Linked DNA regions of Homo sapiens: region 2 is linked to region 1. The links come from fine-mapping of genetic effects on gene expression. Tissue or cell type: whole blood. Region 1 holds a variant in brackets; the other region holds the start of a gene. All regions are shown on one strand. Distances are from middle to middle.

Region 1 (5,371 bases):
AAAATGAATGACTAGTGACTCAGGATGGTAGAAATAAAAGCCTGCTCAAGAAATCATTTCATTTTCAGCAGAAAGTCTGAATAAATGAACTGAAAAAAAAAAAAAAAAAAAAAGGACTTACTCTGTCACCCTTGGGGCCAGGAGTTCCTGCAATTCCTCTTTCTCCCGGCATACCTTGAAGACCTGGTGGGCCTGTATCTCCAGGGGTCCCAGATGGACCTGGACTGCCCTAAAATGAACCAACATTAAGTGACCATACCAATAATATTAAGATTAAACTAATGAAATTGCTTTTTAGTGGGTCAAAAGTAGTTGTCAGCAATTTCATGTAGTTCAACTTAGTGCTTATATTTTTCATCTGAGAAAGTTGTCTCTGAGTGAGTTGATATTTTGAAATTAAAAAAACCAGATTTTGTTTTTGATTGCTGCTTTATATTTTTAACTTTTCTCTTAAGAGGCAATTGAACGCTATTTCAAATAAAAAGGATAGAGTTGCCTTTTTTTCCCTCTGTTGGCAACATAATGGAATATATTAAGAAAGAAAGACATTACATTTAGAGAAATATTTCATTCTCTCTTTAATGAAACTGATATTTGATATTAACCTGGTTTTCAGGCTAATATAGTGTCTAAATTGTAGTAGACTGCATCAATCACTCTAAACCCTGAAAATAATAAGGGGTCTCATGTCACATGACCATGAAAAATTCTACTTCAATTGTTTATACTGAAGTTGGCCACATTATTTTCTACCAATCACTAAATGGCACACATTTCTGCCTTATGATGCATTATATTTTCAGATTTTAAAAGTTCCATATTTTCACATATGTAGTAAGCAGAATTGTGAAACCTGAGACAAGGAAAATGGAGCATATTATTAGAAAAGCCTCCTAATAAATTATGTAATTTTCTATTTCTTTCCTCTGTTTATTCATAGAAGCCACTAATAAAATGTACATAAACATTAGAAATGTGTTTGTATATGGAAGTCTATCACCATGTGCACTAAACTACAATCCCCATCAAAGAAGAGAGTCTTCTTTTTAGCTGACACTTTAGTTGCAAGGAAAAAGCCTAGTAAGCGCTCATTAAATATTTGTGGAAGAAGAAAATGATATAATCAAATTATCTTTCAAAAACAAGACAAATGCATTCTCACACCATCATGCGTTTATTAAGCAGTAATTTTAAAGCATTTTAAAACACTGAGATCACTATGACACTTACTTTTGGGCCATCAGGACCATGTCCTCCAGCCATTCCCTTCTCACCAGGGAGTCCAGTTATCCCAGGTTCTCCTCTTTCCCCAGGATTTCCTCGTTCTCCCTAGCACAAAATTGGGATGTCAAATAATCTCAATACTTGATCTAAAAATAGGTCAAAATGTTTCTGAGAAATGGCTTCTACTGCGGAAAAATTCAGAAATGAGACATTACTAAATCTCAATTTTCTAATTTAGTGATAAGAAATAAATTTGAAGTAAGGATATGCTAGTTTCATAGCACAAAATATTTCTCATAAAATTAATTTTTATCCAGTCAAAGAATTTATAGGTTAAAATAAATCCCAGTTTAAGATTTTAAAAGACACCTTTTAAAACTGAAGCCAGTGGGAAACAACATTAATCATGAAGATTAAAATACTTACTCTAGGTCCTAACGGGCCAACTGCTCCGGGATCTCCAGGAACACCCTATAAACACATTTTTTTTTTTTAATGGAACAAGAGCTTTGAGTTTAGGCATTTATCAGAAAACTTTCCAGTTCATACACCTAGTTTCTATTAATGTGCCATTAGAAGGCTGCATAAGCCAACAATTTAAAGAAAGAAAAGTACGTATATTTTTATAAATGAGGGAATATTACATGTTTTAGATGAAAACATTTTTCCAAAAAACTTTGTATTATACCTGAATGTTTGATTTTTGGCAATGAGAACATGCAAAGTACTATTTCACAAAGATAGAGCATTAGTTTTTTAGAGGCAACAAAATACATGCTAAATGTCTTTTTTTAAACTAATGGAAGATGAAAAAGTTTAAATAAAGAAAAGTTATATAAAAAGGGCTAAAGAGTTGGTCTTTTAAATAGAACCAATCCAATTCTACTCAATTAAGTAAATCTTTCTTGAGCCTATAATATGGACAAAGCACTCTACTAGGTATTGTGCATTCAAACCAGTGCAGTCATGTCTAAATTAAAAGTTTGTTTGTTCTTACATAAAAGAAAGTTTGTCAATTTGAAATTTCTTTCTTTGATAAAGATAACTTTATCAAATAGGCCTCCAATCTTATTCTCCGAAATGGACTGTCCTCACTGTGGCCTGATCTCCCTAATCTTATCATATTACTCCTTCCTTAAAAACCCTTCTTTTTTCTTTTCTGGTTTTTTTTTTTTTTTTTTTTTTTTTTGAGACGTTGTCTCGCTCTATCACCCAGGCTGGAGTACAATGGTGGCATGATCTTGGCTCACTGCAACCTCCACCTCCTGGATTAAAGTGATTCTCCTGCCTCAGCCTCCCAAGTAGCTGGGAATACAGGCATGTGCCACCATGCCCAGGTAATTTTTGTATTTTTAGTACAGACGGTTGGCCAGGCTGGTCTCGAACTCCTGATGCCAAGTGATTCACCTGCCTCAGTCTCCCAAAGTGCTGGGATTACAGGTGTGAGCCACTGTGCCCAGCCTAAAAACTCTTCCTTAGCTTCCCATTACTCTAATGATGAAGAACAAATTAGAATCAAATTAAAGCCCTCCATAATCAGGCCCCTGAGTCACCCTGCAGCCCCCTTTCTATTTTCCCCAAATTACATTACCCACTCTGATTTGTAAGCTTGTCTCATTTCCTGGAGGTTTTTCCTATCTTCCCTCCTTCATCATTATCATCATTCATCTCTCAGATCTCATAAAAGATATTACTTTGTCTGGAAAACCTTTCCTAAAACCCCCAAGTCTTATTTAGGTGCATCTTTTTTGTTTCCATAAACATAGTACCTCCCTTATTATAGCATTTAGAGCATGCTATTATTGTAATTGTCCTATACTCTCTGAATCCTACTATACTGTAAGGACA[G/A]CAAGGTCCAAATCCATTTTGTTCAGCTGGTTCAGGCCAGTGCTTTGTAGAGGCAAGCACACAGAGTGTTCAGCAAATATTTATTAAATGATTAAATGAACAAATGAATCATTCAAAGAAAAATAAATAAATCTATGAGCCAGGAAAACGACAGAATAAAATTGTTAGTATTTGTCCATAACTGTTTATATAAAGTGGTTAAGAACACATCTTGGGAAGCAGATGACCTGGGTTCAAATCTATTAACTGTGTGACTTTGGGAAAGTTATCTAACATCTGTATGCCCCATTTTCCTCATCTACAAAATGGAGATAATGATAGTACCTAGTACATAGGGCTGCTTTGAGAACTCAAAGAGATAATGTATGTAAAGGAAAGCACAACAGAGCCTCACACATAAAAAGTGATAATTGAGCCAGCAATGTATAGTGTTGCCATTATTATTATTTAAACACTTACTTGATCACCTGGTTTTCCACCTTCTCCAGGAGGCCCTGGAGGACCAGGAAGCCCCTAAAACAAAAGTAAGAAAATAAAATTGTGAATCTGTGTAAGTTTAACAGGCTACCAGTGTTAACAGTTTACCTTTTACAATTCATGGGGTCTCCAAGACTATATTTTCAATGAAAATATATTGTTCAGACATTTTAAGTAAAAAATATTGTTCAGAAGCATTAAAAAAAGACTACCAATAAAACACAACAGCTAGTCAATTTATAGGATTGTATTTTCATCTGCACACCACTTAGCAAAAAAAGAGATAATGTAACAGGAGCTTCTTCATATTTATAGAGTTTTTATGGCTCTGTGAACAATATTTTAGACTGCTAGAATATTATTTAAAGTCAGTCCAGAAAGTTTTTTTTACAAATTATGATCTTCCTCCTATTAAATAATGTACATACTGATATATGTAGATAAATTATGAAACTTTGTTCAATAAAAAATTCTAGTCACTGTGCCGATAAAACAAAATCAGCCTTAAAATGGTTTCATAAACTTTGTTGAGCTATCAGAAACATTTTATTCCTGATATCTTTTTATTACTTTTTTGTTATTTTTTATTTGTTTTGTTCATAATTTGCAGGTTTGATCAGTTTTTTTAGAAGCCCATTCCTTTACTTTGAACAAAAATGTTCGATTTTATCCAAATGTCTATACTATCTACTAAAAGAGGGATGACTTTTTGAAAATTGTAGAATTTCAAATCTTCTGACCATATCTTTTTTTTTAAAAAAAAAAAGCATTTTAGTTAATGGAAGATGAAATGGAAAACCGAATTAGTGCATACCTGAAAACCTGTGGGGCCTGGAGGTCCTTGTTCTCCTCTTTCACCAGCTAGACCCTAAGTTGTGAAGGAGAAAATAATTGTGAATATAACCAGATCTTTGTCTGCTTCCTCTCTACGTGAACCACTAGAAGTACTGATATTTATTTGTATTTCTTCCAATCACATGTTTTTCTCTTTAGCCAGGTAATAAACTAGTATTAATAGTAACCAAATGGTATTGTTTGAAGTCTCTGGAGGTGAGAAAATATCTTCTAAAGCCAGTAACTGATAACATGTATTTATTTTTTGATCCAAACTTAAATGTCTGGAGCCAATTGTAAACTTATGGGGAAATTGGATTGAATATAGGAAAACCCATTACTTTTGTATATGTAATCTAAAAACATAATATTTTTATTATAGTTTATTTCTGAATGTCTTAAGAATTATTTATCAAGACTTCAAAAACAGAATGACTAAAGAAAGCAAAGCTAACATTTTAGAAAGATTTAAACTGCCCCACCCCCCCAAAAAAATATGCCAAAATATTTCGGATAAACACTTCATTTGAAAGTCCTAAAATGAAAATAGACCTCAAAGAATAAGTATTATTCCTTTTATGTCCTAAAAAATACCTTAAATAATTTTTTTTTTTTTTTTGGAGATGGAGTCTTGCTCTGCCACCCAGGCTGGAGTGCAACGGTGTAATTTTGGTTCACTACAACCTCCGCCTCCCGGGTTCAAGTGATTCTCCTACCTCAGCCTCCTGAATAGCTAGGATTACAGGCACATGCCACCATGCCAGGCTAATTTTTGTATTTTTAATAGAGACAGGGTTTCACCATGTTGGCCAGGCTGGTCTTGAACTCCTGACCTCAGGTAATCCACCTACCCTGGCCTCCCTAAGTGCTGGGATTACAGGCGTGAGCCACCATGCCCGGCCTTACATAAATTTTTATAAGATGCATTATTGAGAGAAGGTAAATAATTGAGTATCTAAATATTTTAAATAAAATATTTTATAAAATA
Region 2 (5,669 bases), 120 kb after region 1:
ACTTACATGCAAAAACAGATCTCCACATTTCCAAGAAGACATATTTGTACAAAATGTAAATATCACATTATGTGACTGTTATAGATAAAATTTGAAAAATGTACTTGCTTTTCATGTGTGCCTCAGATATTTCTTTAATTTAAAGCATCGATCTAAGCTTACTCTTCCCCAAACTCAAAATCAAATGGAGTTTCTAAATTATGACACCTTTATTAAGCTTGTGATAGGCCTGAACAGGAAAAAGAAAGTATTGCCAAGTATCCATACAATATCAACTTAAACCAAAATATGCATAGTAAGTAAGTACAATATAAGTTAAGCAGCTCTGAATATACTATACTCTGGAATTATTTTCTCTATTATGTTTGATTAGGGCAATGACGACTTTCTTTTGCTGTTGAATTTTTATCACTTATATTCTCTTAAGTTGAGAAATAAAATACTGGAATTTTTTACAACACATATGCAAGCAATTACACATTCTGTAAAATTTGATGTTTGGAATTCCATTTTCTGTGCTATTTGGTTATACTGTTCGCGGGGGGTACTGGGGTTGGATTGGAGTTGGGGACTTTTTTGCATCAAGCATCACATTCCTTACATTTATGTCAATTACTATTAAGAAAAATTATCTGCTCATTTTTCAAAAACACCTACAGAGTAATTATAACTATTTGGGAATGTCTTTTAAAATATGGCTTATTTCATGTACCTTGTGAAACAGTCCTTTCATTTATTCACATATTCAATTATTTCCATACTTTATTAAAGTACTTTATTCATTTTAACATAAATTAACAAAGAAAGTGGTATTAAAGGTTTTAAATTAAAGTTGGTTGTTTTGGTGGGGGAGGGGAGTAAACTGTTCTTTCTAGAGTCAAATTTTCAATTTCTATTGTAATTTTTCTGTGTTTTTCTCCTCCTGTTTTCTTCTACTTTCTATTCAATTATTTTTGCCACCCTTCCAAACAACACATGCTTTTCATGCCATTACAAAGAAACTCAAAAGTTTTCACCTTTTATAAATTACCTCATATTTTAAAAACATAAAACGTAACATAAAAAGCTCCAAGTCTTAGAAAGTGCCCCCTCTATGGGACTCCTGACAGATTGTTGGATATTCATTTACAAATTCGTATTTTCACTTTTTAAGCTTTTTAGAACTTCTGATCTCTAGATTAATTTTATAAACTTTTTGAAACCAAAAACACACAGAAGCAGATATTTGTTCTAAAAATATAGATATATACATAGTATATATACATATATACCTGTATGTATGTGTCTATATATGAAAGTAATAGAAAAGGTTAATGAATGTCCAAAGTTTTAAAAGCTTGAGTTTGATGTTACATGGTTGAGTTGATGAAAATCTACAGTGGCTTATTTTAAAGGAGTACATGTCTGTATTTGAAATTGCAACCCTCAAGATTAAAGATTTAATAGAGGAATCAATTTAAATATTTTCTTATATACTACAACAGCTATGCATTTTTGCTTAACCATACCATATAACCCAACTGTAACATATGAAAATTGCATAGGAAAAAAATGTGGTCACCAGGCAAGATTTATCTTTAAAAAAAAAAAAAAAAAAAAGCTTGGGTCTAAGGGGTAATGTCCATGCAAATATTCCATGCCAAATAAGATATATACAAGACATGCTGATTTCCTGCCTTCCGCCATCCAACCGGGAACCACCACTGTCCTGTTAATCAAGCCAGTAGGGTGGGAAAATACCACTGTTTAAGAAATCTGGCTTCTATCAGCCTCTGTCATGGAGAAACAAACGAGACTGCCTCCCAGTAAGCAAAAGTGATCACATTTTCACAAATGAAAATGGTAAAAAGAAGTTTAAATTGTTAAAGAGGAAAGAATGAGGAGCCAAAGACAAAGAAAAATCAAAGCTATCAGAGTTGCTGCAGAGGTTTTACTAAACAAAGAATTTTATGAAGCAGCTGAAGTTCAGTACAAAAAGACTCCACCCTACCCAGCTTCTGCCGCGACTTTTCCTTGCTCTGAAAACTCCAGCCCACAGAACAGAGCTCCTCTAACTAAAATGCCTTTAGTGCTCCGTTTTAAGCATTCACTCTTTTCTTATTTTAAACGTCCCACTCTCACACTCAGCCAAAAGGACTTATTGTAGGCTTTCCCAGAAAAATTTAGTAGTGTACTCTCTCCAACGGTGGATCTAGAAGCTCCGGATTTACAAACATCCCAATTGTCTTTCAAGTCGTTTTCCAGGTGCAAATCCGTCAGCCCCCTTCTCAAACTTCAAACCAGAACCTCCTCTTCACGCTCTTCCTGAGGCTTAACATTCCACCTATTTCCCAAACCGTGCAATAAACACTACAAGCAAAGCAAATGGCAAACTCACCATCCTCGTCTTCTTCCTGGGCTTTTATTGAGACAAATTGCCCTAATAAAACAATAAGAATGAGGAGAGGTCTTGCTTCCGCCCAGTTTGCCATCATGTCTAAATATTAGACATGTGGGTTCTCCTGAGAGTGAAAAGTAGATTCTGAGGTTATTGTAGCACCATGAAGTCAGCTGTGGGCTCTTCTTTCAGCACCAGCCCCAGGGCAGCCTCTGCAAACCCCCTTTTTCAGCACCAGCTCCAGCACAGTCTGCGAAAACTTTTTTCAAGCGATGCAGCTTTAAATAGGAAGAATGCTGCCTCCACTTCTTTTCCTGCCCCTTTTCAGCTTGTTCAGGCTCATAACCATCCAGTGTCTGCCAAGCAACGGTCTGATTGATGGTAAACAACCAAATCAGAACACGCGTCTCTGTGCCTGAACTTTCCCTATTTCATTTAACTTTTAAGCATAGATGGGGCTTAATAACAGAAACAAACATTTGTTTCTCTTTTCTTTTATTTTTTAAGAAAGGCTGTTAGAAGAAAAGGGTTCTATTTTCCCCTCCCTAACCCTTCCCCCCAGACACACACCCTTTAACTTTTCCCCTATAAGCTGAAAAAGACATTCCGAAGGAAATCCAGCCTTTTACCCTAGTTTTTTTACATTTAGATAATTCAAGACTCTCTTCTCCACCTTAAATCTTTAAACAATCACATTTTAACCCTTTCTTTTGACTGAATAGGGAGTATTCTTATCCCCTTCTCAGATTCGGTTTCTTTTCCCATACTCTGGAAGGAGATTATTAGAATGTTGCCCAGGTAAAGTCCAGGTTAGAAAACCATTTTGGATAAATGAATTTGTGATACATTGTAATTTGAATTAAGAAAGCATGTCCTTTCCTAATTTCTCCACATCTCTTGTTAAGGGGCCACATCTTCAGGTTCCTCTTGTCCCAGAGAGTTTTACCATGTTGAAAAATAGTCTACTAAGCAGTGCAGAGGAATGGGAAGTACTCTACCTTTGGATGAAAAAAGGCTTGCTTCTGCCTTTTGTGAGTGGTTCTGCCACTCAATAATTTTGTAAATGTGCATATAGTCCTTTATCTCTGTGCACTCCAATTTTCTCATTTGAGAAAAGGGCTTTACCCTGACCAGTGTACAGGGTTTAGTGACACTAAAATGAGTAATGTATTATTAATGAAGCTCCAAATTGCAAAGAGCTACATAAAAGCAGATGGTGGTATTATTAGCTTTAAGCCAGCTTTGCAGGGAATATGATAGCCCCAGTTGAACATGCATTTTAAGGAAAATTATCGATGAACTTTTGTGCCACCCTCACACTTGCCAAGATCTTAATGACCTCAGAGAGTTCTATACAATCTAATGTATTTGCCACCTTGAGTCTCCCTAGAATCAGGATGGATGTTCTATACAATACAAGTGAGTCAATTGTTTATAATTATTGGGCAACAGGTGCCTTGCACTGTGCTAAGCACTGGGCAGAAAGGATGACATAAAAGAAATAAAAGACATACCCATCACCTTCAAGGAACATATGTAGGTGTTGAGAAACTAAATTTACAAGAAATAAAGATATATAAGCCAGAGCATATAAATATGTGAGGGATGCATTAAGCCCGGAGAAAGGAGAAATTATCAAATGAGATTAGGCAAGCAAGACATTATTACTGTTCTTAATAGAAGAAATCCAAGAACCTTTGCATTTTAGCTTTGGAACTAGACTCTGGATAAATATTCCAGTGGAGGTCAATTTTCCCGGTTGTTTCCAGCTTCTAACCCTGTACCTCTCAGTTTATCTTTTCATTTAGACATGTCCCATTTCAATGACTTCTGTCACCACCACACTGTTCTCAGGGGTGCCCTTCCACTTAATGAATGGGCTAAGTAAGGACCAAAAATCACCTTTCAGTTAATTCTTTCTAGAATATCTTAGAGAGGCTAGGACTTGAAATCCATCTGACTATATATTCAAAGATAACAGGAAGATAAGTAAATGTGGGGGGGAGGAATTAACCTTTCTCTGAGCTTGCCAGTCCTATTCTACCATGAGGCAATTTTAGACCAATACCACCCTGATACCGAAGGGCTGGCACAATTTTCAGGCACCTTGTGCAGCATTTTTACTGAAGTGCAAGACGGCAGACATTTATGGAGAATCTACAACTCTCAGATCCTATGCTGGAGATAAAACAATGATTAGGCAAGATTGCAGGACTTGTAGCAGAGTCAGTGTATGGAACACTCAGTGGCTGCTCAGATCAGTAGTTTAGTATCTGTTATCTGTTTGTTAATAAAGTTGTTTTAAATTTAACTATAAACATGGCTTATATAAGAAAGGTTAAAACCACCATGCAGTCTCTCATGGTTGCCACCAGTTTCAATCTCCTCTTCCCACCCTACTGAAAGCTCATGGTATGACAGAAGCATAGCAAATATTTGTCAGAAGACCTGAGATAAGTAAATATTCCATATTGTCCTTGTGAACTCTTGAAATCTTATTGCAATCAAGTCATAAATAGCAAAGTATTTTGCAACTTGGGCTTTTTCTCTATGTCTGGTTTTAGGGTCCCACATTACAATTTGGAAAAGACTAAAATATACACAGGTATTGACCAGGAATATCTGTTTAATATATGTGGTTGAATTCAGAATAGAGGACAATGCCATTTCTTAGTCCTTAAAGAACTGATTATAGACCTCACTGCTGCAGTGGGGTACTCAGAAATCTGTCCCAATTCCAGTGAAGCCTATCCTAACAGTGTATGTTTTGTAATAATATGTGCTAGTGGGTGAATATTTTCCAATTCTCACAGCAACCCTGAAAGGTACTTATTATTTTTCTCAAATCATATATAGGCGATTACGGTTCAAAGATGTTTACTTGCTCAAGTTTGCTCACCTAATAAGCAATAAATCTAGGGTTCCACTTCAGTGATGTCTGACTCCAGAGTGAATGTTCTCACCCCTTTTTAGCTCTTTTTAGACCTACTTGACACTCAAACTTCTATTACCACCACACTGTCCCCAGGAGGAGCCTATTTCCAATTAATGAATGGGCTGAGTAAGCACCAAAAATCACCCTTCAGCTACTTCTTTCTGGAATATATGAGAAAATCAGGACTTGTAAACCACCTTGCTAAATATTCAGGAAGAATAACAGAAAAACAAATAATAAAAATCAAAGGTTCTTGTATTTCTTCCACCAAGAAAAGTGATAATGCCTTACTTACCTAATCTCATTTTATAATCTTCCCTTTCTCCGAACTTCTGCTGAGCTTGATGCATGACACAC

What was found. PIP is the estimated chance that this variant, and not a neighbour inherited with it, causes the effect.
Region 2: it holds the start of COL5A2, and the variant in region 1 is fine-mapped to the expression of COL5A2 in whole blood (TOPMed, PIP above 0.99).

The regions. Positions count from the first base shown.
Region 1 is chr2:189,057,199-189,062,569 of GRCh38, forward strand. COL5A2 (collagen type V alpha 2 chain) reads right to left here. Exons shown (of 54, transcript NM_000393.5): 30 at 4,364-4,417; 31 at 3,532-3,585; 32 at 1,651-1,695; 33 at 1,231-1,329; 34 at 122-229. Among named protein-coding and RNA genes, the nearest start is that of MIR3606, 64 kb to the left of the region's middle. The variant G/A (reference allele first, on the strand shown) is at 3,073.
Region 2 is chr2:189,177,131-189,182,799 of GRCh38, forward strand. It overlaps COL5A2 (collagen type V alpha 2 chain), which reads right to left and starts at 2,631. Exons shown (of 54, transcript NM_000393.5): 1 at 2,378-2,631. The coding sequence starts at 2,474.